Homo sapiens: one gene and its partners. The protein of the gene in region 1 purifies or fractionates together with the protein of each later gene. This does not show direct contact. Each region holds a gene or a part of one and is shown on either strand. Other genes may lie near its edges.

Region 1 (4,198 bases):
AGCACCCAGAACGAAAACCCACTAGCTGCAAGAGAGGCAGGGAAACGAAGGCTCTGTCCTGGGCAGCTGTGTCCAGATAAAAGCCAGAATGGATATTGGGGAACAGACAGCCGTCCCTGCCCCGCCTGCTAACCCAGGGCTTCTGGGGGTGGGACACGGATGATTCCACTTCTTCTGGCCTGTGGACCAGTGTTTGGGCGCCACAGGGATGAAGTGTCTGTCGAACCTGAGATTCCGAGCCCAGGCATATAAGATGCAAGACTGAGAGTCCACAGTGCTATAACATTGAAATTAAAAGTCAGTGGTACCCGGTTCAAAAGAGCTGACTCCAAGATCCCAGACACTCATATCCTCAAGACTCTATAAATCTCTGATTCTGAAACGTGAAGGTGCCACAGAGCCTGTGATGCAGTGATTCCAGACCATCTGGGTTTCACTCTAGGAAGGCTTCTTGAAGGAGCAAACATCTGTCCTTCTCCTGCCCAGAGCTGCCAGGTCACAAGGACAGAACCAAGACTCTTGATACCTCTCTAAGTAGCAGGAGGGACAGCTGGGGCTGGGGGCTGGGGGGTTGTAGGGCACTAGAGTTTCTGTCCCCAGGCTAGATTAAGGCGAAGGCTCTGCTGGATTGGGATATGAACCTGGAATTTGATGGGAAATGCTAAGCCCTCTCTGCCTCCGGAGTTGTCCTCCCACCCTATTCAGCCTACCCAGGCCCCGGGAAATCCAGCCTCTTCTCCAGGCTCCTAAATGATGAGGTTGAGCCTTCACCCCTCCCCACCACCGCCTCTGCTTGCAGATTCCCAGCGGCATCGGGTCACAGATGAGGAGGTCCAGCAAAGCAGGTTCCAGATGCCACCCTTGGAGGAAGGTGAGTCAGGATGGGAAGGGGTGTGAATGGCAGTCCCACCTCCAGAGAGTAGCTCAGCTCAGCTTGAGACCTTCCAGCAGGAACCTCCCTCAATGAGTCTTTCCTGACTTTCACAAATCCTATAGGCAGTAAGTGCTTTCTGAAGTCTGACTTAAAGCCCTCTTGCTGCACTGCTTCTTTCGTCACCATTCTCCCTTTCCTGCCTTAGGACTTGAAGAGTTGCATGCCTCCCACATCCCAACTGCCAACCCTGGACACTGCATTACAGACCCGCCATCCCTGGGCCCTCAGTATCACCCGAGGAGCAACAGTGAGTCGAGCACCTCTTCAGGGGAGGATTACTGCAATAGTCCCAAAAGCAAGCTGCCTCCATGGAACCCCCAGGTGTTTTCTTCAGAGAGGAGTTCCTTCCTGGAGCAGCCCCCAAACTTGGAGCTGGCCGGCACCCAGCCAGCCTTTTCAGGTAAGCTGTGCCTCCCCCAAACCCCCATCCCATAGCCAGCCTGGCTGGAGGAGGCATAAAGCTGGGAGCCCTGAGTCAGGCTGAGGTCAGGATTCTACCCAGTTCCGCAGCCATTCGCTGTGTGCCCTTGGACACATCTCCCATCTCTGGGCCTTCACTTTGTCATTTGCCAAGCTAGGGACTTGGCTCTCGTGAGTCACGTGGGCCCCCCAGCTCTGGCAACTTGAGAAGTGGCTGTGTGCTGGCAGAGGGTGACTGGTTCTGGGGGTTTCCAGCAGGGCCCCCGGCTGATGACAGCTCCAGCACCTCATCCGGGGAGTGGTACCAGAACTTCCAGCCACCACCCCAGCCCCCTTCGGAGGAGCAGTTTGGCTGTCCAGGTGCCAATATCTGGGGAAGGGATGTGGGAGGGGGACAGAGAGGGACTGGGGAGTAAATGAGTGGGGAACTATTGGATGCATTCGCTCAAGGGGAAAAGGAGAAAGGAAGGGTAAAAGAAGAGAGGGAAAGTAACTTTTTAAAAAACAAAGCAAGGCCAGGCATGGTAGCTCAAGCCTGTAATCCCAGCACAAGGCAGGAGGATTGCTTGAGGCCAGGAATTTACGACTAGCCCCGGGAACATAGCAAGACCAGTCTCTACAAAACTAAAAACTAAATATTAGCCAAGGGTAGCACGTGCCTATAGTCCCAGCTCCTCAGGAGGCTGAGGTGGGAGGATCGTGTGAGCCCAGGAGATCCAGGCTGCAGTGAGCTATGATCGTATCACTGTGTATCATGCCCCTGCAGGGTCAGAGCAAGACCCTCTTTCTACAAGAAAACAAACACAAGCACAACAAGAATATGAAGAGGTGGGGAAAATGGATGTGGACGGGATGGAGAAATAGTCAAACAGGTTGCTTTGATAAGAAGTGAGCTCCCTGTCAGTGGAGGCATTCAAGCAGAAGCAGCTGGTTGGCTCCTTGGGGGAGACTGTGGTAGCAGAGGGGCTTCCAACATTCAATCGTCCACCGTGTCGTGCAGTGTGCCATTGTGGAGACCATAGCCCTGAACCAGACAGACGAGGCTATTCCCTCAGTGCTGATGTTCTAGTCAGGGACATGGCCGGAAGCAAGATGATCAGATGGCTTCATGCAGCATCCCACGGGGATAGTGATGTGGAGCCAGAACCACTCAGCTCCGTCCTGTGGGGCAGCAGGGCAATGACTGGGTCTCCCACTAATCTGGGCCTCTCTGCCCACAGGGTCCCCCAGCCCTCAGCCTGACTCCACCGACAACGATGACTACGATGACATCAGCGCAGCCTAGGCCGGGGCCAGCCGAGGCTCCTGGGGTGGCTCTGACCCTCTGGCCTCCTGCTCTACCTACTCCCTTTCCCCTTTCCCACCCTCCCAGCTCACCTCCCCATGGAGCTGAGAGGCCTCCCTTGGAGAGATGGAAGGAAACGTTATACCTTGTACCCCTCGGTCTCCATCCATCAAGCCAAACCTGCTGCCACAGCCCTCCCCCGGCCCCAGATAGCAGCCCCAGGGAGGATGCTGCCTCCAAGAGGTGTGAGCCCTCTGTCTCGGGGATGAACAAGCAGAGTCTGGGCTACCTCTTGACAGCTGGTGGAGGGGAGTTGGGGAGCTGGACTGGATGACTCTGGAGGCCCCTTCCAAACCTCAAGTGTCCGGCGCTTTGATTGCCTGAGTTTCTGACACTTCAGGGCCCAGAGGTCCTGCGAGGGGCAGAACTGGACCCCCATGCCAGTGCTGCTGCAGGAGGGCCCATATACTAGGGTCTGCTGAGCTGTTGTCACTGATCGGTGGGCGCTGGGGGGGTAGGGTAGCACACCAGCTGTCCCAGGCTTTGCTCCGGGCGGTAACTGCACTTGGGCAGGGAATATAGCCTTCCTGGGCACAACTAGCTGACAATGACAGGTTGACTGTGTACCCCCAACCAAGGAGCTGGGGCCCAAGGCCAGTCCTGCCCCAGAGACACTCCAAGTCCGCCAGGGGCACAGACCAGTTCTGCAGTGACTGTCCCTGGACAATGGGTCTTTATTCTGAGTTTCCTATGGTTTACAAAGAGGGCCCCAGCCCAGCCCCACCACAGATCCCAGAGATAGGGGCCCAGTCTCCATGGGGGCAAGGAGCATAGAGATGTTTTCCAGGAAGGGGCTCAGAAGCTGCACTAGGCCCCGAGTCCCCATGTGTCTCCTTGAATTGATGAGGATGCTCCTGGGAGGGATGCGTGACTATGTGGTGTTGCACCCGGGGCTGCAAACGTCTCCGTGCAGCCCCCAGAGAGAGGCCCATGGGCTCAGACCAGGCTTTGTTGTCCTGCTCTGAGTATCCTGAGATTAAACTGAATTGCTGAATGAAACCAGGGCGTGGAATGACAATTTCTTAAACCTCATAGAACCCAGGCTGCATGTGTGTGTGCACGTGTGTGTGGCATGTATGTGCATGTGTGTGTGTGTGTGTGTGTGGCATATGTTGGATACAAATGAGACAAAGAGTTGAGCTCAAATCTTTTATTTGGGAAGTAATCCCAGGGAGCAGCAGTAAGAAAATGAGGAAGAAAGAGGGGGAAGGAAGGAAGACAATGTTCATGAACAGGTTGCTATTATGGGCAGCCAGAGCTCAATGGTGCTGGGGACCTCTGGGAGACACACCTCAGAATTGTCCCACCAAGGGGGCAGGGAGCTGGGATATTGACCCACCCTCTCTGCCTGTCATTGGTTGAGGAGACATTAACCCCCAGCCCCAGCACTACCGAGCGGCCTGTGAGTGAGCTGGGCACACGCTGTGTCGGGAGAAGCCACAGGCAGAGGGTCAGAGGCACATGCTATAAGGAACCATCTTCCATGGGAATGGTCCAGG
Region 2 (3,500 bases), on another chromosome or scaffold:
ACAACTCCACTGGCCAGTCTCGGGCTGTGATTGCAGCGGCAGCTCGGAGGCGGGACAACAGTCACAATGAGTACTACTATGAGGAGGCTGAGCATGAGCGAAGGGTGCGCAAGAGGAGGGCCAGGTGGGTCCCTGGGGGAGAAGAGGAGAGGAGGTGCTTGTTGGGTGAATGGGGAGAGGAAGACCAAGGAACTTCTGTAACTGCTGGAAATATAGGGCAATGATGACATGAGTTGGGGGTGTGTGCTTGTTTTCCGTTGCTGCCCTAACAGATTACCATAAACTTAGCAGCTGTGAAACAGCACACATTTATTATCTCCCAGTTCCATGGGTCAGGTGCAGGCTGGCTGGAGGCTGTGCTCAGGCCTCACAGGCTGAAATCAAGAGGACTCTCATCTGAGCCTATGCTTTCTCTTTCAAGCTCATTATTATGGGGAGAATTCAGTGCCTTGTCACATAGCCCCATAGGCAGTTTACATGATGGTAGTGCACTTTTTTTTCCAGCAGAAACAGGTCTCTGACCTCTGCCACCAGCTGGAGATAATGCTGATTTTAAAGAGCTCATGTGATGAGATCAGGCCCTAAAGGACAGTCTTCTTTTAAGGCCACTGACTTGGCACATTAATTACATCTGCAAAATGTACCAAGATTGTTGTCTAATGAGGGGATGGGAGTCTGGTAGAAGTGGAGGGTATCTTTGAATTCTGCCTGCCACAGTGGGGTAGGGACCCAATAAAGGGATGTGAGCTTTACCTGCAACAGCATGGACTCAGGCTAGACTAGCCTGCCTGCCAGTAGATCTTGAGAGGACTCACCAGATGGTGCTTTTGTTGCCTTCAAAAAATGACGTTTTATTGCCTATATTTTGGTAAATTCTTAAATGCCATCCTAGCTTCTCCCTTTCCCTATTCATATTATTAAGTGAATTTAGTCAACCCTGAAGAATCTTACTTGGTGCCTACTCTGCCGGGTTCCATCTTGGTCTGTCGGGAGTTCCCTGAGGGAGGAGCAGAGTGCCTCAGGACTTGACCACGCACCTGGCCTCCGCCCCATCTCCCACATGAACTCCAGGCTTCAAGGGCAAGAGGTAGCCCTTACCTTGTTCCTATTTGAGGCTGGCATCCCCTGTAGTAGAACAAAGATCACCAACTCCATTTCTGTGGCATTCCAACCTGTCTCTAATTGTCTTGGAAATGGCCTGAGACTTGGGAAGGAAACCAGTGATGTCCCTACCCCTTTATCTTCTGCCCTGACCAGGGTCATCCAATCTCCTGTACTGCCACCACCATTTTTGGCACATAGAGGACTCTTTCCTTTCCCCATTACCTTGCTTTTAACCAGGAGCAAACTTTTTCCTTTGTTTACCTGAGATAAAAGGATCTTTTCAAAGGGAATTTACTGAGAAATGTAGGGGAAGCAAGAGAATAAAGGAAGAAATGATAGACATACACAGATCCACACCTATATACCCAGAGTCCCATCTGAAATGACTCAGGTTCCTGGGTTCTGCATAGAAGGCCTCACTTTCTTTCTTTGTCCTGTCACTTCAGGCTGGTCCTGCTCTTAGGCCAGGGGGCTTTTATTTTGGTTTTTGGACTTGAAGTGCAGATAATTGCATTAATTGCTCTTTTCAGCTTCTAACATATTGTCATTATAGAGTTTTTCATGGTTCTTTATTCTGTTTCTTCTTTTCCTCCAGTTCCCACTTTCACTCCAGCGCCACATTTTAGGCATCCTGTTGAGTGTGTTTGACTTCCTTAAAAGCTATATGTATCCTTGTGCAAAGTTAGTGTTAGTGTAGTGATCTTTGTTGGTGTTGGTGTGTGTGTCTGTATGTATGCTTTTTTTTTTTTTTTTATTGAGATGGAGTCTTGCTCTGTCCCCCAGGCTGGAGTGCAGTGGCATGATCTCAGCTCACTGCAACCTCCGCCTCCTGGGTTCAAGTAATTTTCCTGCCTCAGCCTCCCCAGTAGCTGGGATTACAGATGCACACCAGCATGCCCAGCTAATTTTTGTATTTTTAGTAAAGATGGGGTTTTGCCATGTTGGCCAGGCTGGTCTTGAACTCCTGACCTCAGGTGATCCACCTGTCTCACCCTCCCAAAGTGCTGGGATTATAGGCATGAGCCACCACACCCGGCCATCTATATGCTTTTAATGTAAATGGATTTTTTTTTCCTGCTTCCTCCTTAACACTGTGTTTTTGAGATTCATCCAAGTTGTCTGTACATCTAGTTTGTTGCATCTTTTTGCTGCATAGTAGTTCATGGAATACTCCCAACATCCTATCCAATATTTGGTTTATAGTTACCTTCTTTCTTTTTTCCATTTTGATGGAAAAGTAATATTTTACTAACATTTTCATTTGCATCTCTCTAATTGCTAGCCAGTAACTACTTCGTATATCTTTTAGCCTTTCAGTCCTCTTGTGAATTTTCTGTTCACCTCCTTTGCCCTTTTTTCTCTAGGTTTCCTGTCTTTTTCTTCTTGATAGAAATTGTAGCAAATTCTTTGCATGTTCTAGATCTGAATCCCTTGTTGGTTTTAGATGTGTATATTTTCCCCAGCTCCATCAGATGTCAGTTAATGTTGCCCATGCTGTCATGGTTGAACAGAAATCTGTCATTTTGATGTAATCATATCTATTAATTGTTGAGCCAATGAAGTATGATTTGGGGGTCTTATTTAAGAAGGTTTTCCTTAAAGTTTGGTGGAATGCTTTGTCTTTCCTATAGCATAGTTCCTAGTTGTCTCTCTGGGTTTGACACTAGGTTTGCCCTCTGAGTCCCTGGGCTGGGCCCACTGAACTCTGTGGCTGTTTACTGTTCCCAGTGGCAGAAAGGCACTATTGCCTCTGGCTTTGTATTACTTTGGGTGAGCACAAAGGCCTGACCTCATTCAGGCTGCTGGAGTGTTGGAGCTAGGGGAGAGGGGTGGGGTGGGGGAAAGAGAGGTGGGCATCTGGCCCAGTCCCCTCCTGTCCCCTAGGCTTGTAGTGGCGGTGGAGGAGGCCTTCACTCACATTAAGCGGCTGCAGGAAGAGGAGCAGAAAAACCCCAGGGAGGTGATGGACCCCCGGGAGGCAGCCCAAGCCATCTTTGCATCCATGGCCCGTGCCATGCAGAAGTACCTTCGGACCACCAAGCAGCAGCCCTACCACACCATGGAGAGCATCCTGCAGCACCTTGAATTCTGCATCACGCATGACATGACGCCCAAGGTAGGCCTGCCCTGCTGCCAGCATCCTTCCTCCTTCCCCAGCTCCTCTTCTTTCCCACCTTCATTTTCCCTTATTCTCTCACTACTTTCCTCACTGTCCACCTCATTTCTCTCTCCTCACCACCTCCTTTTTATAATCTTCTCTCTCATTCCTATTCCACCTGCCCCATCTGTGTGGGGTGAAGTCTTTAGGTAGATGAGGAGAAGGGAGTCCTCAGGACCATTTTGGGGATGGCTGAGACTTATTTCTCATCTCTATGAGGGCTCCGGAATTACCAGAT
Region 3 (3,500 bases), on another chromosome or scaffold:
AGTTCTTGACAAGCCCTGCCCTCTGGAGAAATTGCTTCACCGGAGCCTCTCCTGCAAAGGGTTTATCGCAGCCCCGCCTACCCGGAGCAAGGGAGATGCCTAGCTCCAGCTGGTTCTAGCTTTCAGCATTGGGGAAGGGAGATGATCAGCTGCAGCTTCTGCTGGCCATCCTGGCCAACTGAGGGCGTGGGGATGGGAGGCACTGGTGCAGTTCACAGTCCAAAGGCACAGGCTGGCCAGAAGGTTGAGCCTGCTCACAGGCGCGTGCTCCCCAGCACCTCCCACCACATCCCTAAGGGCCTGTTCATTCCAGCTCCTTTTACCTAGTGCAACGTGTCCGCCTGCCAACAAAAAACGACAAAGCATGATGACCTTTTTTTTTTTACTTTACCTTTTACCATTTGCTTTAAAATACTGAAGCATTAAGTATATATAACTGTAAGTTTTTAGGTTCATAGGTTAATCAGATCAACATCCTATTTTTAGAGATTTCTGAGTAAATCAGGGAATACTCATTTGTAAGCCTTTATAGTGATTATTATGTTTGAAATTTGTAAGTATTTAACTTTTACTGTCTGTTTCCTGTATGCTTATATTTTTTGAATACAGAAAACATGCTCTCAGGGAGATGATAAGCAACTCATGCTGAAGAATTTTTTTTTCAGAGCTTCCAAATATTCTACTTTCATATCCGTTTGACTCAACATCTTTAAAGAAATGGATAATGATGAAAGACTTCAAAAAGTGTTAAGGATTAATTTGAAAGAGAAGTTATATACCCTGAATAGAAAAATTGAAGAAAGAAGAAGCTAGATATTTGGAGAAATTTAAAAAGCAAAATGAGGCTGGGTGCAGTGGTTCACGCCTGTTAATCCCAGCACTTTGGGAGGCCAAGGTGGGCGGATCACGAAGTCAGGAGTTCAAGACCAGCCTGACCAACATGGTGAAAACCCGTCTCTACTGAAAATACAAAAAATAGCCAGGCATGGTGGCATGTGCCTGTAATCCCAGCTACTCAGGAGGCTGAGGCAGGAGAATCACTTGAACCCGGGAGGCAGAGGTTGCAGTGAGCCGAGATCGTGCTGCTGCACTCCAGCCTGGGCAACAGAGCAAGACTCTGTCTCAAAAAAAAAAAAAAAAAAAAGCAAAATGAAAAATAGTAAAAGCAGAGTAGGATATTATTAGACAAAGACTAGAATATTGAAGAACCTCAACTTAAACATGAAAGAAATATTTCATTTGCCCTTTTCACCAGCATGTCATCTCTGTCAATGTTGGTTCCTATAAAAGACTTCAGTAAATACATATTTATACTGATTCTTTTTTTTTTTTTTTTTTTTTACTTAGCTGTCATATTGTCTTCTCGAACCCAGATGTAAGGACATGCTTCTTTAAGAAGCCATATAGGCCCTTCTTTGGAGATTCTCAGATTCATTTGAAGACCTGAGTCTGTTCTTTATCTAGAATGGAAAGGTTGGTGGGTGGTGAACCACACACGCCCTTTGTACTGATCACCTTACTCTGTACTGTGTGGCTGCTCCAGAAATGGCGAGTTCACTCACCAGTTCATTGGTCAGTTGTAGGGTTGTTCACTAAAGAACATTGAAAAATTGGGAAAAATAGAAAAAAAAATAGGAAGAAGGGAGTATAAAGTTCAGAAAAGCAATCATTTGGGATAACATAGGAGAAATGATTTTACAATAAGTAAAAAGAAGAAGATCCAAGTTAGGATCTACAAGGGAGAATGAATACAACCTTGGAATGAATGAAAATTAACTGAGGATGAGTAGGAAGTGATGTATCTTCTGTTGTCTGTGAATAAGAGGTATTAAATCACTGTGCCAGGACAAGCACCAAGATAACATGTACAAACATGGTTTCTGTTCTTTCCTCCCTGATTTCTCTGTCTTGGTTTTATTTTGTTTATTCATTTTTAAGAAATATATGAAATGTATTGTTTTGGTGTTACCCGTTTGGAAACATAGATTTATGTAGAAGAAGGTATTTCATGTAATTATAAATAATGTCCTGAAGATAAAAGGAAAAGATAATAATGCTTTTCTTTTGGGGTGGGAAATTATTCCAGGCATAGCCCTTTTGTACCTGCAGTTGTACCGGGTCACATGTGACCAAACCTACCTGCTCCGATCCCTGGATTACGTAAAAAGAACACTTCGGAATCTGAATGGCCGCAGGGTCACCTTCCTCTGTGGGGATGCTGGCCCCCTGGCTGTTGGAGCTGTGATTTATCACAAACTCAGAAGTGACTGTGAGTCCCAGGAATGTGTCACAAAGTGAGTTTTAGAACTGGAAACATTTTCTCCCAATTCCCAGTGGAAGCTCTTGCTGTAGAAAGATATTCAGAAAGGAAACTATTTTTCCATTCATCCATTGTTGTAAACAGATCACTCCAAAATGTTAATCTTGAGCATAGTGGTGGGATCATATGCCCTCTTTTTATCCAAGCATGTGTGTGCCTTAATTTTGGGAAGAATAAATATATTTCCTTATTTTAACCATGTTTCCTAAGCAATTTTTTGTTTTCTTCAATGCATGAAAATTAGCTTACCTGCTTTAGATTCACCATAATAACTAAACTGATGTTAGGTTCAACCCTTAAGTAACTGATTAGATATGCTAATGATGGAACAATTAGGGAATGTAAGCTTTTATTGCACCTATTGGTTTACGTTCTTCCTTGAAGAAGCAGAAATCACGGTTCATTCCTAGGGTCTGGTAGAGTATCTGGCACGTGCTAGTCAGTTAATGTTTGTTGAAAGATAGGATGACGCTGGGTATAGTGGCATGTGCTTGTAGTTCCATTAACTTGGGAGGCTGAGGCAGGAGGATCACTTGAGCTCAGGAGTTCAAGGCTGCGGTGAGCCATCATCCTGTCACTGCACACCAGCCAGGGCAACAGAGCAAGACCCTGTCTCTAAAGAAAAAGAAAGAAAAAAAAAAAGACAGAATGACAGTCTAATTCCCAAGCATTGGTGACATTGCAGTCCTTTTTTTTTTTTTTCTGAGATGGAATTTCGCTCTTGTTGCCCAGGCTGGAGTGCAATGGCGCGATCTCAGCTCACTGCAACGTCCGCCTCCTGGGTTCAAGGGATTCTCCTGCCTCAGCCTCCAAAGTAGCTGGGATTACAAGCATGTGCCACCACACCCAGCTAGTTTTGCATTTTTAGTAGAGACGGGGTTTCACCATGTTGGTCAGGCTGGTCTTGAACTCCTGACCTCAGGTGATCCACCTACCTCGGCCTCCCAAAGTGCTGGGATTATAGGCGTGAGCCACCGTGCCCGGCCTGCAGTACCATTTTTATTTAAATTTTAAATCACTTTCTTTTACTTCTGGATTTCAAAATAAAATTTTATGGTTTAAAATAGATGTAAAGGTAGAAATTAACAGAAAGATGTTTTGTTTTTAATTTTGACATTCAAAAGGGGACTAGTAAACTGGAGACGTTTTTGTTGTGTTCTGGATTTGGGAGTATTTTTAA
Region 4 (3,205 bases), on another chromosome or scaffold:
AATCCTCAGACATGCAAGCAATCCTTCCTCAAGGAAGAACTCAAAATTATGAAAATGTTCTCAGAGAAAACAGTTAACATCTAGTTCCAGGGTTCTTAATTGAAGAACAAAGAGCCCCTCAGGATATCCAAAAATAGATTTTCAGTGCTCATTGAATCCTCTGAAATTGTGTGCAAACATTGTATAGACAAAGCATTTTTCTGGGTGAAGGCTCAAAATCTCATCAGATTTATGTCGTGGTTTCCGAAGATAGTAATGATGACATGCTTTGAAAGCTAATGTTTTACATTTACTCAGAAGGCTTTCATGAGGTTATGACATGGGCAGATGATTTAATAAGACAGTTATGGTTTCATGTGAAACTCCTTTGCAGAGAGATGCCCATACACACTGATGGGCATGCTGAGTCCCTGGTCTAGGTGTGTTAAGGTAGGGGTAGGGGCTTTGCCTTCCCATCTTGATTCCCTCCCATGGAACATGCATAAGCTTCTAGCTGTTGCCTAAGCATGAGGAGTCCCATTGTCTTTCTTAGGAGTCCTTGAAGAGTTTTAAACAGCCATTTACATCACAGATATTGATCTGCTGTTAATGAAATTGTACCTGCATTGGTATACTCATAATGGTTGTTCTGAAAGGTATTATTATTTAATATGTCACTGAAATAGTTTGTATTATAAGAAAAACTGCTGTCTATGGGGTTTCTGTATTAGCATTCTGTTTGTGTTTATGTAGGGATTGGCAAAGCACCATACTTTAGAAAGTTTATAAGTTTTTACTGAGTTATCTTCTTATTAACTCTTGTCTGAGGGTTACTTGGTAAAATTTTCTTATCCTATTAATACAAACTGTATAAAACTTAGTTTCTAAACTTCTTTCTTTATTAGGCCACTCCATGTCCAAAAGAACCAAATAAAGAGATGATAAATGATGGCGCTTCCTGGACAATCATTAGCACAGATAAGGCAGAGTATACATTTTATGAGGGAATGGGCCCTGTCCTTGCCCCAGTCACTCCTGTGCCTGTGGTAGAGAGCCTTCAGGTGAGAACGCCTAGTCCAAGTTGGCCTTCAGCTCTTTGCAGCTACTCTCAGCTGTGACCTGGCATCATTTCATTTCATGGGAGTTTTGATTTTTCTCCAATCGTCTGATTAGGGGATTTTTATATACACCATTTGTTGATTTAAAGAAAAAAAAACAAAATTAGGAGGAGCGTACTTGCCAGAAAATTTAAATGTAAATAAACTTGTATGTTATCTTGAAATGTTTTTAGCTAGCTTTGTAATAAAAAACATTTTAATTGCCCTTTTTTAAAAAAAACAAATGAAAGTTGAATGAGAATCTAATTTGTGTACTTTAATGAAAAATGAAAAGTTTTCTCAGTGTTGTGATTTTCTGTGAATTGCAGTTGAATGGCGGTGGGGACGTAGCAATGCTTGAACTTACAGGACAGAATTTCACTCCAAATTTACGAGTGTGGTTTGGGGATGTAGAAGCTGAAACTATGTACAGGTACTTGATAAAACTTTTTGCATCATCCAGAGGTTGTGAGGGGTGTGGGTACAGGAGATTCTTTCCTGGCACTGATTGTAATGTATTAAACAACCTTGTGTTAAGTCTCATTTTTAACATGTACTTTGCTTTTTAAAGTGTTTTTAAGTGATTTCTATTTCCTCCTCAGGTGTGGAGAGAGTATGCTCTGTGTCGTCCCAGACATTTCTGCATTCCGAGAAGGTTGGAGATGGGTCCGGCAACCAGTCCAGGTTCCAGTAACTTTGGTCCGAAATGATGGAATCATTTATTCCACCAGCCTTACCTTTACCTACACACCAGAACCAGGGCCGCGGCCACATTGCAGTGCAGCAGGAGCAATCCTTCGAGCCAATTCAAGCCAGGTGCCCCCTAACGAATCAAACACAAACAGCGAGGGAAGTTACACAAACGCCAGCACAAATTCAACCAGTGTCACATCATCTACAGCCACAGTGGTATCCTAACTACCGTCTTTTTGCTAGGACTTAAACTGACTTGAGTGTGGCAAAAAGTTAACAAAAAAGGAGAAAAAATGAACAATCGTTTGTGGTTTCTTGGGAAAACTTTTCATACCAGGTGATACTATTCAAAAACCCCGTTGTCTCCCTGCAAGTGCTGATTTGAAATGCAGAAGCCACAGTAAAAAAAAAAAAAAAAAAAAAAAAAAAGAAAAAAAAATCAAAATGTATAAATATTGGAAATCAAGTTTTTCAGCTGTTTTGTTGGTTGGTTGGTTGGTTTTTGTTTGGTTTTGTTTAAATGGGCAAGAAGTAAATAATGTGGCTGGAATACAAGTTGAACAAACTAGAAGACACAAATCTAACATAGTTTTTATGGACCAAGGAACTTGTATATTGTATAAGCTTTAGTAAAAGGTACATTTTCACCATACCTTTTTTTATATCACGGTATTATAGTACACCTTGTTACCAAATAGGTTGTTCTCTTCCCCACCCACCTTTGAGCTTTTGCTCTAAAATACATTCAGGTTCCAAGCCTGACCATCCTTGTTTAATCTATCATACTCTTCCAGGTTTTTTTTTTTTGGTCTAAGGCTGGAACTTTTTTCTTTTTTTTCAGCTGAAGTCTTATGACTTTTCATGAGTCAAAATTGTTTGGATTTCAGCAAGTCAAATCTTGCAAAGGCCTGCATATTTTTTTTAAGATTATATGAAGTCTGTGCAAAAGCTTTAAAAAAATGCCTCTGCCTTGCCTGCAATACATGCAATGTATGTTAACTTAGTCTCTCTTCTCAGACACTGTTGGTAGTTATTTCTGTGTTTTCCTTTTTTTAAAAAAAAATATGGACTTATTGTGGTTATCTGAGAGGTTCTAACATTCACATGCAATTTGGTGTGGCCATTTAGCTATTAATGAGTTAATGGCGCAGAACTTGTTGATATTTGAAGTGTTCTCTCCCCTTTTCCCATGACGTAAATACATAGGTGTGTTCCAGGATTTGTTCAGGTTTTTCCCCCCTCCTAATCTTGTACATAACTTGTATTATGTGTAAGTTAAACATTTTATTTTGAACTTGGAATGTTCCCAGTGATTTCATTCAGCAGGGTATTTTCTGCCTTGTTGGCAAGTGACAAAAAATATGGGAAGTATTTGCTACCAGTTGGTAGATGGTGCCCTTAATGGTAGAATGAGGAAAATGTCCGCAAAAGCATGT
Region 5 (3,500 bases), on another chromosome or scaffold:
GGACTACAGGCGCCCGCCACCACGCCAGGCTAATGTTTTTTTTGTGTGTGTATTTTTAGTAGAGACAGGGTTTCACGGTGTTACCAAGGATGGTCTCAATCTCCTGACCTCCTGATCTGCCCATCTTGGCCTCCCAAAGTGCTGGGATTACAGGCGTGAGCCACCACACCCGGCTGGGGCTTCCCTTTCAAAGCCATCCATCATCTCGTTTCCTTGTTGATTTTTTTAAGTAATAAATATTTATCTTAATTAGGACAACCAATGAATTTGCCATGTAATCAACACTGTCAGGTTCTTACCTATTAACAAGATCTTACTTAAATCTATAAGGCCCTTTAACACCAAGGTCTTTAAGGAGTTAGAATCTTTTAAAAATAATATTTAAATTTATTGTTTCACATTAGTTTGAATAAAGCACAAGCCAAGATGGTTTAAATATCATTTGCAGATGTCCAAGCTTCTTTACAATTACAGGTCATGGGCATCATCAACCTAGTCCTTGACTTGCAGCTAAAAAAGGCAAAAGGTCTGTGTGAAGTGACAGAAGAGCACACCCTACTCATGTCATGAGCAAGGAATCAAAGTCGAAGAACAGTAACAGTCTTGACATCAGCACTGTAAGAATTACTCTGCAGTAAACTCCAACCCAGAATGGGGAAGAATACTGAATTAGCTGAGCACATTCTGGACACAATTCTGACCAATTTCAGTCTCATGATCTCTGTTGGAGCAGGTTTCATTCTCCAATTCTCTTTTACAGAACAGCAGAACTCGAGCCTTCATAAAAGTGATTAACGGCCTTTCCGCTTCTTCATTTTTCCTCCAGCCACCTTGTTCCTGACACCAATAGCACCCTCTGTGTCATCATTATCTCCAGCATCCTCTCGCGAGCGTTTCTTCTTTTCTCCATGCTCCCTTAACTCCTGCAAGAAAAAAAGAGAGGATGGGATTGAAAATGAATTACTGGCACTGAAGGTTACTCATTCTAGTCCCCTCTCCTTAAGATCAAGTATCAAGTAACTTGCTGATGCCTGACATTAGCAAAGGAACAAGACCCAACTCCAAATATACAAAGATGTTAACCTTATTAGTAATCAAAACGTGAACACTAAAGTAAGGTTTTATTTTCACATGGCAGATTGGCAAAGACTTAAGAGAAGGGTAATCCCCAGTATTGGCCAAGGTGTAGAAAAATTCACATATACTCTCATTTATAGTGCAATCTGCTATAGCTTTTCTTGGGGCGGGGGACAATTTGGCATTCTGTATGAATTCAAATTTTAACTGTGTATGTCCCTTGGCCCAACAAGTGTACTTCTAGGAATTTATTCTAAGGAAGTAAATATGCAAAGCTGTACAAAGTAGGGTGTTTAACACTGTACCAAAGTAGAAAGAAACTGGAAAAAAGCGTAAGCATCCATGAATGTAAGTATTTCATACACATGATGGAATTCTTTGTAGCCATTAAGAAACGATCACATGAATCTGTATTTGTTGAAACAGAAAAATGTTAATCCTATATAATTAGATAAAGTCTAATTATGGCTAAAGAAAGAAAAATAGCCAAATGTTATCAATGGTTTTCTGTGGGGAATGGTTTACCTTTTCACTTACTACTTTAATCCTTTCTGTATTTTTTGAATTTTTTTCCCAATGCACATGTAATACTTTTACAAACAAAAAAATCCCATGTGGACAGAATAAAAACCAAATGTGCACCTCAGCTACTCCAAAAACAAACTATGGGCAAAGTTTCTCCATCCCTCAGACCAGAACTCCAGAAAGCAGGCAGCACTTCCAATGGTTTTCCTCTAGAATCTTCTCATCACCACTATTACTGTTACTACTACTTACAGGGTGAGTATCCCTTATCTGAAATGCTTGGGACCAGCAGTGTTTCGGACTTCAGATTTTTTCTAATTCTAGAATATTTGCAGATACATATGAGCTATCTTGGGGATGGGGCTCAACTCTAAACACAAAATTCACTTGTTTCATATATACCTTATATATGAAGGTAATTTTACACAATATTTTTAATTGTCTGAAGGTAATTTTACATCATATTTTTAATATTTTTGTGCATTAAAAACATTTTGACTGTGTCTTGATAGCAACCTGTCACACGAGGTCAGGCATGGAATTTTCCACTTGCGGCAATCCTTTTCGCACTCAAAAAATTTTGGATTGCTGGGCACAATGGCTCAAGCCTGTAATCCCAGCACTTTGGGAGGCCGAGGCGGGGGGATTACCTGAGGTCAGAAGTTCGCCTGACCAAAATGGAGAAACCCCATCTCTACTAAAAATACAAAATTAGCTGGGCATGGTGGCACATGCCTGTAATCGGGAGGCTGAGGCAGGAGAATCGCTTGAACCCGGGAGGCGGAGGTTGTGGTGAGCCGAGATTGCACCATTCGCTCCAGCCTGGGCAACAAGAGCAAAACTCCATCTCAAAAAAAAAAAAAAAAAGAAAAAAGAAAAGTTTTGGATCTTGGTTTTGGATTTCAAATTTTTGGATTAGGTATGATCAACCCCTACTAGTAACTATGTAGTTTATATTGGCTTCTCTGGTGCTCATAAAACCCCATAAGGTATTCAGGCAAGTGTTATTCCCAATTTACAGGTGAGAAACTGATTCTGATTCTGAGAAATCAGGCAAATTTCCCAAGCTCACACAGTTCACAGCTGGATCTTCTGACCTCAAGTCTGATGAACTATCTCACCACGTGCGACACATGAACAGGTGCTGTGAATGTGTGAATGTCAGAATGAGGCCAAACCTTGATTCAACCATTTGGTTGTATGGTCTAATGCAAATTACCTACCATCTCTGCACCTTAGTTTGCTCGTCTTAAATTTGGAATAAAATAATACCCAGCTTCTGCAGTTTAGTATGAGGGTTAATATAATAAAGTGGCACACAGTTAACATTGTTTGCACAGACACTGGTGAGAAAAGAAAGATGCATACCATTCGGGCAAACCTTTGGGCTTCAGCGACGCGTTCTGTCAGCATCATAACCTCATCATCCTGTGTTGGAAAACCTGGTAGTTTCTTCCCAATTAAGTGTTCTATGCGCTGGAAGAGTTCCACATCATACCTGAGGAAGGAAAACTGCACAGCTCTGGTTGCCTGGTAACGCAAATGCCTGTCCATTCCCAAACTATTATTATATGATACAACGCAATAGGAACCATAGGTTTAAACAATATTGAACATATTATTTCTTTTCTAAATATGGGTTAAGTGCAATCTCTGTGCATAGCCCATTAGAAAATCACTCAAGGGAGGCCAGGCATGGTGGCTTGCACCTGTAATCCCAACGCTTTGGGAGGTCAAAGCAGGAGAATCACTTGAGACCAGGAGTTCCAGACCAGCCTGGACAACACAGTGAGATGCCATCTCTATAAAAAATTAAAAATTAGCCAACCGTGGTGGCATGTGCCTGTAATCCCAGCCATTCAGGAGACTGAGGTATGAGGACTACTTGAGCCCAGGAG
Region 6 (3,500 bases), on another chromosome or scaffold:
AAACCTTTACTGAGCTGGGAATCTGGTTCAGTCTGGGATTGTCAGGGACTATTTCAGGGCAACAGAAGGGGACTGGCTTTTCTTGTCATAGGTCACAAAGGCAGAGAGAACCACACCAGCATCACCAAGATGGCCAGGAGTGGAAAATGCAGACATTGAGCCTAAAACAAGAAGCCATTTCCTTGGGAGCACTGTGATGGGGGCCGCGCTCACTCACTATATGCCCAAAGCCTCTGGCCTGGGTGGCTGCTGTTCAGTTGAGAGTGTAACCAGCTCCTGTTTTCCCTGCCAGGGCTTGAGTCCTGTGAGAACCTTGGGAAGAGAGAAGAGATAATGGGTAGTTTTAGGGGATAGAATACCCCTTCCTCCTACCAAATGTAAGAGAAATCCACCCCCGCAACAAGATCTTCTCAAACTGTTTTGTGCTCTGAAGTGTCTAAAGATAGGGGAGCTTTTCAGCCTATTCTAGACCCAGCTCCTTCTCAGAGGAAAAGAGAGGGAGCTGGCCAGGGACTACTCCCATGCCCCCTCAAGAAGAGCAGAGAGAGTTTCTACCCCATCATTCCACAAAGTCAGAACAGCTAGAACGGAGGCTGAAGAGACTGAGAGCAGCTGCAGAAATCCAAAAATATTGACCTTATAAGCTCAAGATGCTGTATGCTGGGTTTTTACAAGGATATTCGGTATTTGATGAAACCCAGTTAGGCATGACATATTCCCCTTCTCCCCATTCCTACCTCTCTTTTATTAAAAATTTTATAGTTACAGTGTCTATGTTGCCCAGCCTGGTCTTGAACCCTTTGGCTCAAGTGATCCACCTGCCTTGGCCTCCCAAAGTGCTGGGATTACAGATGGGAGCCATCGTGTCTGGCCCATTCCTGCCTCTTAAAGCCCTCCACCCAACAGGCAGACTTGAGACTCAAACCGTGGTCCCAGCTCTGCATCAGGGGTAGTTTGGAATTCAGATTCTTTCAAACTGGGGTAAAAACCAGGCCCAGAGTTCAGAGTTCAACAACAAGCTTCCAAGATGCCGCCCAAAGGAAAAAGTGGTTCTGGAAAAGCGGGGAAAGGGGGTGCAGCCTCTGGGAGTGACAGTGCTGACAAGAAGGCTCAAGGTCCCAAAGGTGGTGGCAATGCAGTAAAGGTCAGACACATTCTATGGGAAAAACATGGCAAAATCATGGAAGCCATGGAAAAGTTAAAGTCTGGGATGAGATTCAATGAAGTGGCCACACAATATAGTGAAGATAAAGCCAGGCAAGGGGGCGTCTTGGGTTGGATGACCAGAGGGTCCATGGTGGGACCATTTCAAGAAGCAGCATTTGCCTTGCCTATAAGTGTGATGGATAAGCCTGTGTTTACAGACCCAGCAGTTAAGACAAAATTTGGATATCATATTATTATGGTTGAAGGAAGAAAATAAAATCATATGAAAGACTGAAAGAAAAAAAAAAAAAAAAAAAAAAACTAGGCCCAGGACACCAAAGGCAAGAAAGGCAGAATCTTTAACAAATTAGGGGCTGGGTGCGGTGGCTCACACCTATAATCCCAGCACTTTGGGAGGCCAGGAGTTCTAGACCAGCCTGGCCAAAATGGCAAAACCCCGTCTCTACTCAAAATAAAAAAATTAGCTGGGTGTGGTGGCAGACACCTGTATTCCCAGCTACTCAGAAGGCTGAGACACAAGAATCGCTGGAACCCGGGAGGCAGAAGTTGTAGTGAGCTGAGATTGCACCACTGCATTCCAACCTGGGCGACAGAGTAAGACTCCATCTCAAAACACACACAAACTAGGCCAAAACCGTAAGCAAAAAGCAAAGAAAAACTCTTCTAAAATGGCCACTGTGATTTCTGTGCCTTCTCTTGTTTCATACATACATATATATATATATATATATATATATATATTTTTTTTTTTTTTTTGAGACAGTCTTTCTCTGTTGCTCAGGTTGGAATGCAGTGGTGTGATCTTGGTTTACTGCAGCTTTGACCTCCCAGGCTCAAGCAATCTGCCCCCCTACAAAGTAGCTGGGACAACAGGCATGCACTACCACACCTGGCTTCCTCCTCGCCCCGAGGCAGAGTCTTGCTCTGTCACCCAGGCTGGAGTGCAGTGGCACGATCTCTGCTAACTATAACCTCTGCCTCCCAAGTTCAAGCAGTTCTCCTGCCTCCCCTCCTGAGTAGCTGGGATTACAGATGCCCGCCACCACACGTGGCTGATTTTTGTATTTTTAGTACAGACGGGGTTTCACCATGTTGGCCAGGCTGGTCTCGAACTCCTTACCTCATGATCCGCCCGCCTTGGCCTCCCAAAGTGCTGGGATTACAGGCATGAGGCACCACGCCCAGCCTTTTTCTTTTTTTTAAGATGGAATCTTACTCACTCTGTTGCCGAGGATGGAGTGTAATAGTGCGATCTCAGCTCACTGCAACCTCCGCCTCCCGGGTTCAAGCGATTCTCCTGCCTCAGCCCACCAAGTAACTGGGATTACAGGCATGTGCCACCAGGCCCGGCTGATTTTTGTATTTTTAGTTGAGATGGGGTTTCACCACGTTGGCCAGGCTGGTCTGGAACTCCTGACCTCAAGCGATCCACCCATCTCGGCCTCCCAAAGTGCTGAGATGACAGGTGTAAGCCACCATACCCGGCCTGTCGTCTTCTCGATATATCAAAATAGAGTGCAGTGGCTACTGCTGCTGGTCATGTGGGTGTGCAGAATGGTACCCAATAAAACACAATGGGTGCTACTGGAAAGCAAAGGGTGCATTGGGACACAGCCTACTCATGTTCCTTTTGCCTTTCTAGGCCTAGAGTCCTTACGGGACAGTGCCCATTCCACACCAGTGCGTTCCACTTCCCATGGGGACACCTTCCTGCCTCACGTGAGAAGCAGCCGGACAGATAGCAATGAGCGAGTAGCTGTGATTGCAGACGAGGCCTACAGCCCTGCAGACAGCGTGCTGCCCACCCCTGTGGCTGAGCACAGCCTGGAGCTGATGTTGCTTTCCCGGCAGATCAATGGAGCCACCTGCAGCATTGAGGAGGAGAAGGAATCTGAAGCCAGCACCCCAACTGCTACAGAGGTGGAGGCCCTTGGGGGAGAGCTGAGGGCCCTGTGTCAGGGGCACAGCGGGCCCGAGGAGGAACAGGTGAATAAGTTTGTTCTAAGTGTCCTCCGTTTGCTCCTTGTGACCATGGGACTCCTCTTTGTTTTGCTCCTCCTCCTGATCATCCTTACCGAGTCTGACCTTGACATTGCCTTTTTCCGTGATATCCGCCAGACCCCCGAGTTTGAACAATTCCACTATCAATACTTTTGTCCCCTCAGGCGATGGTTTGCCTGCAAAATCCGCTCAGTGGTGAGCCTGCTCATTGACACCTGAGAAGGCATGACTCCTCCCAAAAACTAGCCAGGTGGACCAAGGAACCCGGCTACCCATTCCCAGCAATGGGACCCATCGCGGAACCATCGGCACATATACCAAGTCCTCCTCTC
Region 7 (3,500 bases), on another chromosome or scaffold:
TAGAGATAATATGGATCAGTCCAGAGTTCTCCTCTGGGTGAAAGCAGAACCCTTTATAGTGGGTGCCTTGCAGGTCCCCCCTCCATCCAAGTTTAGTCTTCACTATCTCAGGAAGATATCCACCTATGTGCAAATCCGGGCCACAGAAGGAGCTTACCCGCGCCTCTACTGGTCTACATGGAGGCACATCGCTTGTGGGAAGCTGCAGTTGGCCAAGGACCTGGCGTGGCTTTACTTCGAAATATTTGATAGTCTTTCAATGAAGACACCTGAGGAGCGCCTGGAATGGTCTGAGGTTCTGTCCAACTGCATGTCTGAGGAGGAAGTTGAAAAGCAGAGAAATCAGGTACGGATTGATATGTGTGTATACTTAATTACTTTTGGAAAGAAACCATTCTTTTTTAAATTAAAAAATGTTTTTGCTTATTACAATTTTTAGATAGAAACAGAGTTTCACTTTGTTGCCCAGGCTGGTCTTGAACTCCCGGCTTCAAGCAGTCTTCCTGCCTCGGCCTCCCAAAATGTTAGGATTACAGGCATGAGCCACCATGTCTGGCCCAATAAACCATTCTTAATTTTTGTATTAGCTGTAAAATTTTAGGTTTTAGGCTAATGGCCATTGTAATCTCAAGTTATCATTTGAGTTTTAGTAGTTCCAGTTTGGCAGTATTTCATGTATTCAATGAATTAGTCCTTACTTACCAGACCTTACTCACCTACTCCCAAAGCAGTAATGTTACAGAGACCCTGTTATTGAAAAAGGGAAATATTTTACTGACTTTAAAAAGATTTTGGGGTGAATGAGTGTTATGAACAACTGATATGTTACAGTCAGAGCACCTGACTATTTTAAAATGAACATCTGCTACATGATGGGATTCAAAGATGATTAGGATAGCATCTCAACCCTCATGGAGCTTATGGACTAGTAGAGGAAGCTGGTATTAAAAAAAGATGCTATTTAATAGTGTGATATGTATAATAAAAGAATACACAAAGTACAGAAATTGAATAAAGAATGATTTATTTCAGTGATAAGGAAAGACTTCACAGAGAAAGTATATTAATCAAGTAGGCTGATTATAGTAATAGACAACCCAGTATTTCAGTGGCTTAGAACAGTAACAGTTTATTTCTCATTCAGGCAGCAATCTAACACAGTTGCTCCTGGTTGGACAAATCTCTGGGCTGCTGTCATCCAAGCGATGACCAGGGATCCATGCTTCTATCACTTGGAGTCACTGTTAATCAGCTTTGTTAAAAGCTGATTTCATTCATTAAGAACAAACAAATGAAATTCCAGTGGCTTACAGGGGAAAAGGTTTATTTCTTGCCCATTTTACATGTGGGCTTCATTTTTGCTATGGCATTTGTCCAGGCTCCGTGTTTCCCCATTTAGGGACACAGGCTAAAGAAATAGCTTCTGTGTAGATCATTCCCATTCTTATAACAGAAGGGAAGATCAACAGAATGGAGGAAACTCATGATGTCTCTTTTTAAATTCTTATTTTATGTATACAGCTCAATCAGTTTGGGGATAAGTATATGCTGTGAAACCATCATGACCGTCAAGGACATAGACATACCCATCACCCCCCATAGGTTCCCCCTCCTCTTTTATGCTTGTTATTTTGTGTGTGTATCTGTTAAGAACACTTAACATAAGATCTACTGTCTTAGAGAATTTTAAGTATACAACATGTAATTGTTATCTCTAGGCGGTATGCTGTAGAGTAGATCTTCAGAACTTAATTTTCTTGCATAACGGAAACTTTGTAGCCTTTGACCATCAACCTCCCCATTTCCCCCTCCTCCTAGCCCTTGTCAGTCACCCTTCTGTCTGTTTTTATGAGTTTGACTATTTTAGATTCCACATATAAGTGAGATTACATAGCTTTGTCTTTCTGTGTCTGGCGTGTTTTACTTAGCATAATGTCCTCCAGGTCCATCCATGTTGTTGAAAATGGCAGGATTTCTCTCTCTTTCTGTTTTTAAGAGACAGGATCTCACTCTGTTGCCCAAGCTGGAGTACAGGGATGTAATCATAGCTCACTATAGCCTGGAATTTCTGGGCACAAGCAATCCTTCCACCTCAGCCTCCTGAGTGGTTAGGACTACAGGTGTGTGCTATCATGCCTGGCAAATTTTTGTATTTTTTTCATAGAGGTCAGGATCTCACTGTGTTGCCCAGGCTGGTCTTGAACTCTTGGCCTCAAGTGATCCTCCCACCTCAGCCTCCCAAAGTGTTGGGATTACAGGCATAAGCCACTGTACCCAACATGATTTCTTTCTTTTTTAAGGCCAAATGGTACTCCATTATATATGCATGCCAAGTTTTCTTTATCTAGTCATCCATCTGTGGACATTTAGGCTGCTTCCATATCTTGGCCATTATCAATAATGCTGCAATGAACATGGGAGTGCAGGTATTTGCAGGATCCTGATTTCAATTCCTTTGGATAAATACCCAGAAGTGGGATTGCTAGATCGTATGGTAGTTCTCTTTTTTATTTTTTGAGAAACCACTATACTATTTATTTATTTTTTTTTTGAGACGGAGTCTCGCTCTGTCGCCCAGGCTGGAGCGCGGTGGCGCGATCTCAGCTCATTGCAAGCTCCACCTCCCAGGTTCACACCATTCTCCTGCCTCAGCCTCCTGAGTAGCTGGGACTACAGGCACCCACCACCATGCCCGGCTAGTTTTGTGTATTTTTTAATAGAGATGGGGTTCACCATGTTAGCCAGGATGGTCTCAATCTCCTGACCTCATGATCCGCCTGCCTCGGCCTCCCAAAGTGCTGGGATTACAGGCGTGAGCCACCGCGCCCGGCCCTATTTTTTATAATGGCTGTACCAGTTTACATTCTCACTGACAGTGTACCAGGGTTCCCTTTTCTTCACATCCTTACTAATACTTGTTAATCTTTTGTTAACAAGTGTGAGGTGATATCTCATTGTGGTTTTGCTTTATATTTCTCTAATGAGTAGTGATGTTGAGCACCTTTTCGTATACCTGTTGGCCATTTGTATGTCTTCATTGGAGAAATGTCTATTCAGGTCCATAGTCCATTTTTTAATTAGGTTATTTGGTTTTTCTTGCTATTGAGCTGCAGGAGTTCATTATATATTTTCGATATTAACCCCTTACCAGATACATGGTTTACCTTTTCTTCTGTTGATTGTTTCCTTAGTTGTGCAGAAGCTTTTTAGTTTGATATAATTCAACTTATTTTTGCATTGGTTGCCTGTGCTTTTGGTGTCATATCCAAACAATCATTACCAAGACCAATGTCAAGGAGCTTTTTCCTTATTTTTCTCTAGGAGTTTTACCATTTCACCCCTTACATTTAAGTCTTTCCTCCATTTTGAGTTGATTGTGTATGGTATAAGCTATGGTCCCAATTTCATTCTTTTGCATTTGTAGATCCAGTTTTCTCAGCATCATTTATTGAAGAGACTATTCTGCGTTTTGTATTCTTGACACCCTTGTGGAAAATTAG

What was found.
Region 2: the proteins of CD6 (region 1) and VANGL2 purify together in Homo sapiens (affinity purification with mass spectrometry; one large-scale study listed by BioGRID and IntAct). This does not show direct contact.
Region 3: the proteins of CD6 (region 1) and LANCL2 purify together in Homo sapiens (affinity purification with mass spectrometry; one large-scale study listed by BioGRID and IntAct). This does not show direct contact.
Region 4: the proteins of CD6 (region 1) and RBPJ purify together in Homo sapiens (affinity purification with mass spectrometry; one large-scale study listed by BioGRID and IntAct). This does not show direct contact.
Region 5: the proteins of CD6 (region 1) and DDX47 purify together in Homo sapiens (affinity purification with mass spectrometry; one large-scale study listed by BioGRID and IntAct). This does not show direct contact.
Region 6: the proteins of CD6 (region 1) and FRMD5 purify together in Homo sapiens (affinity purification with mass spectrometry; one large-scale study listed by BioGRID and IntAct). This does not show direct contact.
Region 7: the proteins of CD6 (region 1) and TBCCD1 purify together in Homo sapiens (affinity purification with mass spectrometry; one large-scale study listed by BioGRID and IntAct). This does not show direct contact.

What each region holds. Positions count from the first base shown.
Region 1 is NC_000011.10:61,016,680-61,020,877, forward strand, and holds the end of CD6 (T-cell differentiation antigen CD6 isoform 1 precursor), read left to right. Parts: intron 1-799; coding exon 800-871; intron 872-1,079; coding exon 1,080-1,334; intron 1,335-1,609; coding exon 1,610-1,714; intron 1,715-2,574; coding exon 2,575-2,639; 3' UTR 2,640-3,698; downstream 3,699-4,198.
Region 2 is NC_000001.11:160,421,064-160,424,563, forward strand, and holds part of VANGL2 (vang-like protein 2), read left to right. Parts: coding exon 1-124; intron 125-2,988; coding exon 2,989-3,220; intron 3,221-3,500. UniProt on the Homo sapiens protein: Involved in the control of early morphogenesis and patterning of both axial midline structures and the development of neural plate. Plays a role in the regulation of planar cell polarity, particularly in the orientation of stereociliary bundles in the cochlea.
Region 3 is NC_000007.14:55,396,337-55,399,836, forward strand, and holds part of LANCL2 (lanC-like protein 2), read left to right. Parts: intron 1-2,086; coding exon 2,087-2,294; intron 2,295-3,500. UniProt on the Homo sapiens protein: Necessary for abscisic acid (ABA) binding on the cell membrane and activation of the ABA signaling pathway in granulocytes.
Region 4 is NC_000004.12:26,429,014-26,432,218, forward strand, and holds part of RBPJ (recombining binding protein suppressor of hairless), read left to right. Parts: intron 1-884; coding exon 885-1,040; intron 1,041-1,405; coding exon 1,406-1,509; intron 1,510-1,678; coding exon 1,679-1,994; 3' UTR 1,995-3,205. UniProt on the Homo sapiens protein: Transcriptional regulator that plays a central role in Notch signaling, a signaling pathway involved in cell-cell communication that regulates a broad spectrum of cell-fate determinations.
Region 5 is NC_000012.12:12,826,846-12,830,345, reverse strand, and holds the end of DDX47 (probable ATP-dependent RNA helicase DDX47), read right to left. Parts: intron 3,101-3,500; coding exon 2,971-3,100; intron 924-2,970; coding exon 792-923; 3' UTR 365-791; downstream 1-364. UniProt on the Homo sapiens protein: Required for efficient ribosome biogenesis. May have a role in mRNA splicing. Involved in apoptosis.
Region 6 is NC_000015.10:43,873,772-43,877,271, reverse strand, and holds part of FRMD5 (FERM domain-containing protein 5), read left to right. Parts: exon of another isoform or gene 1-1,466; intron 1,467-2,809; coding exon 2,810-3,387; 3' UTR 3,388-3,500. UniProt on the Homo sapiens protein: May be involved in regulation of cell migration. May regulate cell-matrix interactions via its interaction with ITGB5 and modifying ITGB5 cytoplasmic tail interactions such as with FERMT2 and TLN1.
Region 7 is NC_000003.12:186,560,840-186,564,339, reverse strand, and holds part of TBCCD1 (TBCC domain-containing protein 1), read left to right. Parts: 5' UTR 1-10; coding exon 11-346; intron 347-3,500. UniProt on the Homo sapiens protein: Plays a role in the regulation of centrosome and Golgi apparatus positioning, with consequences on cell shape and cell migration.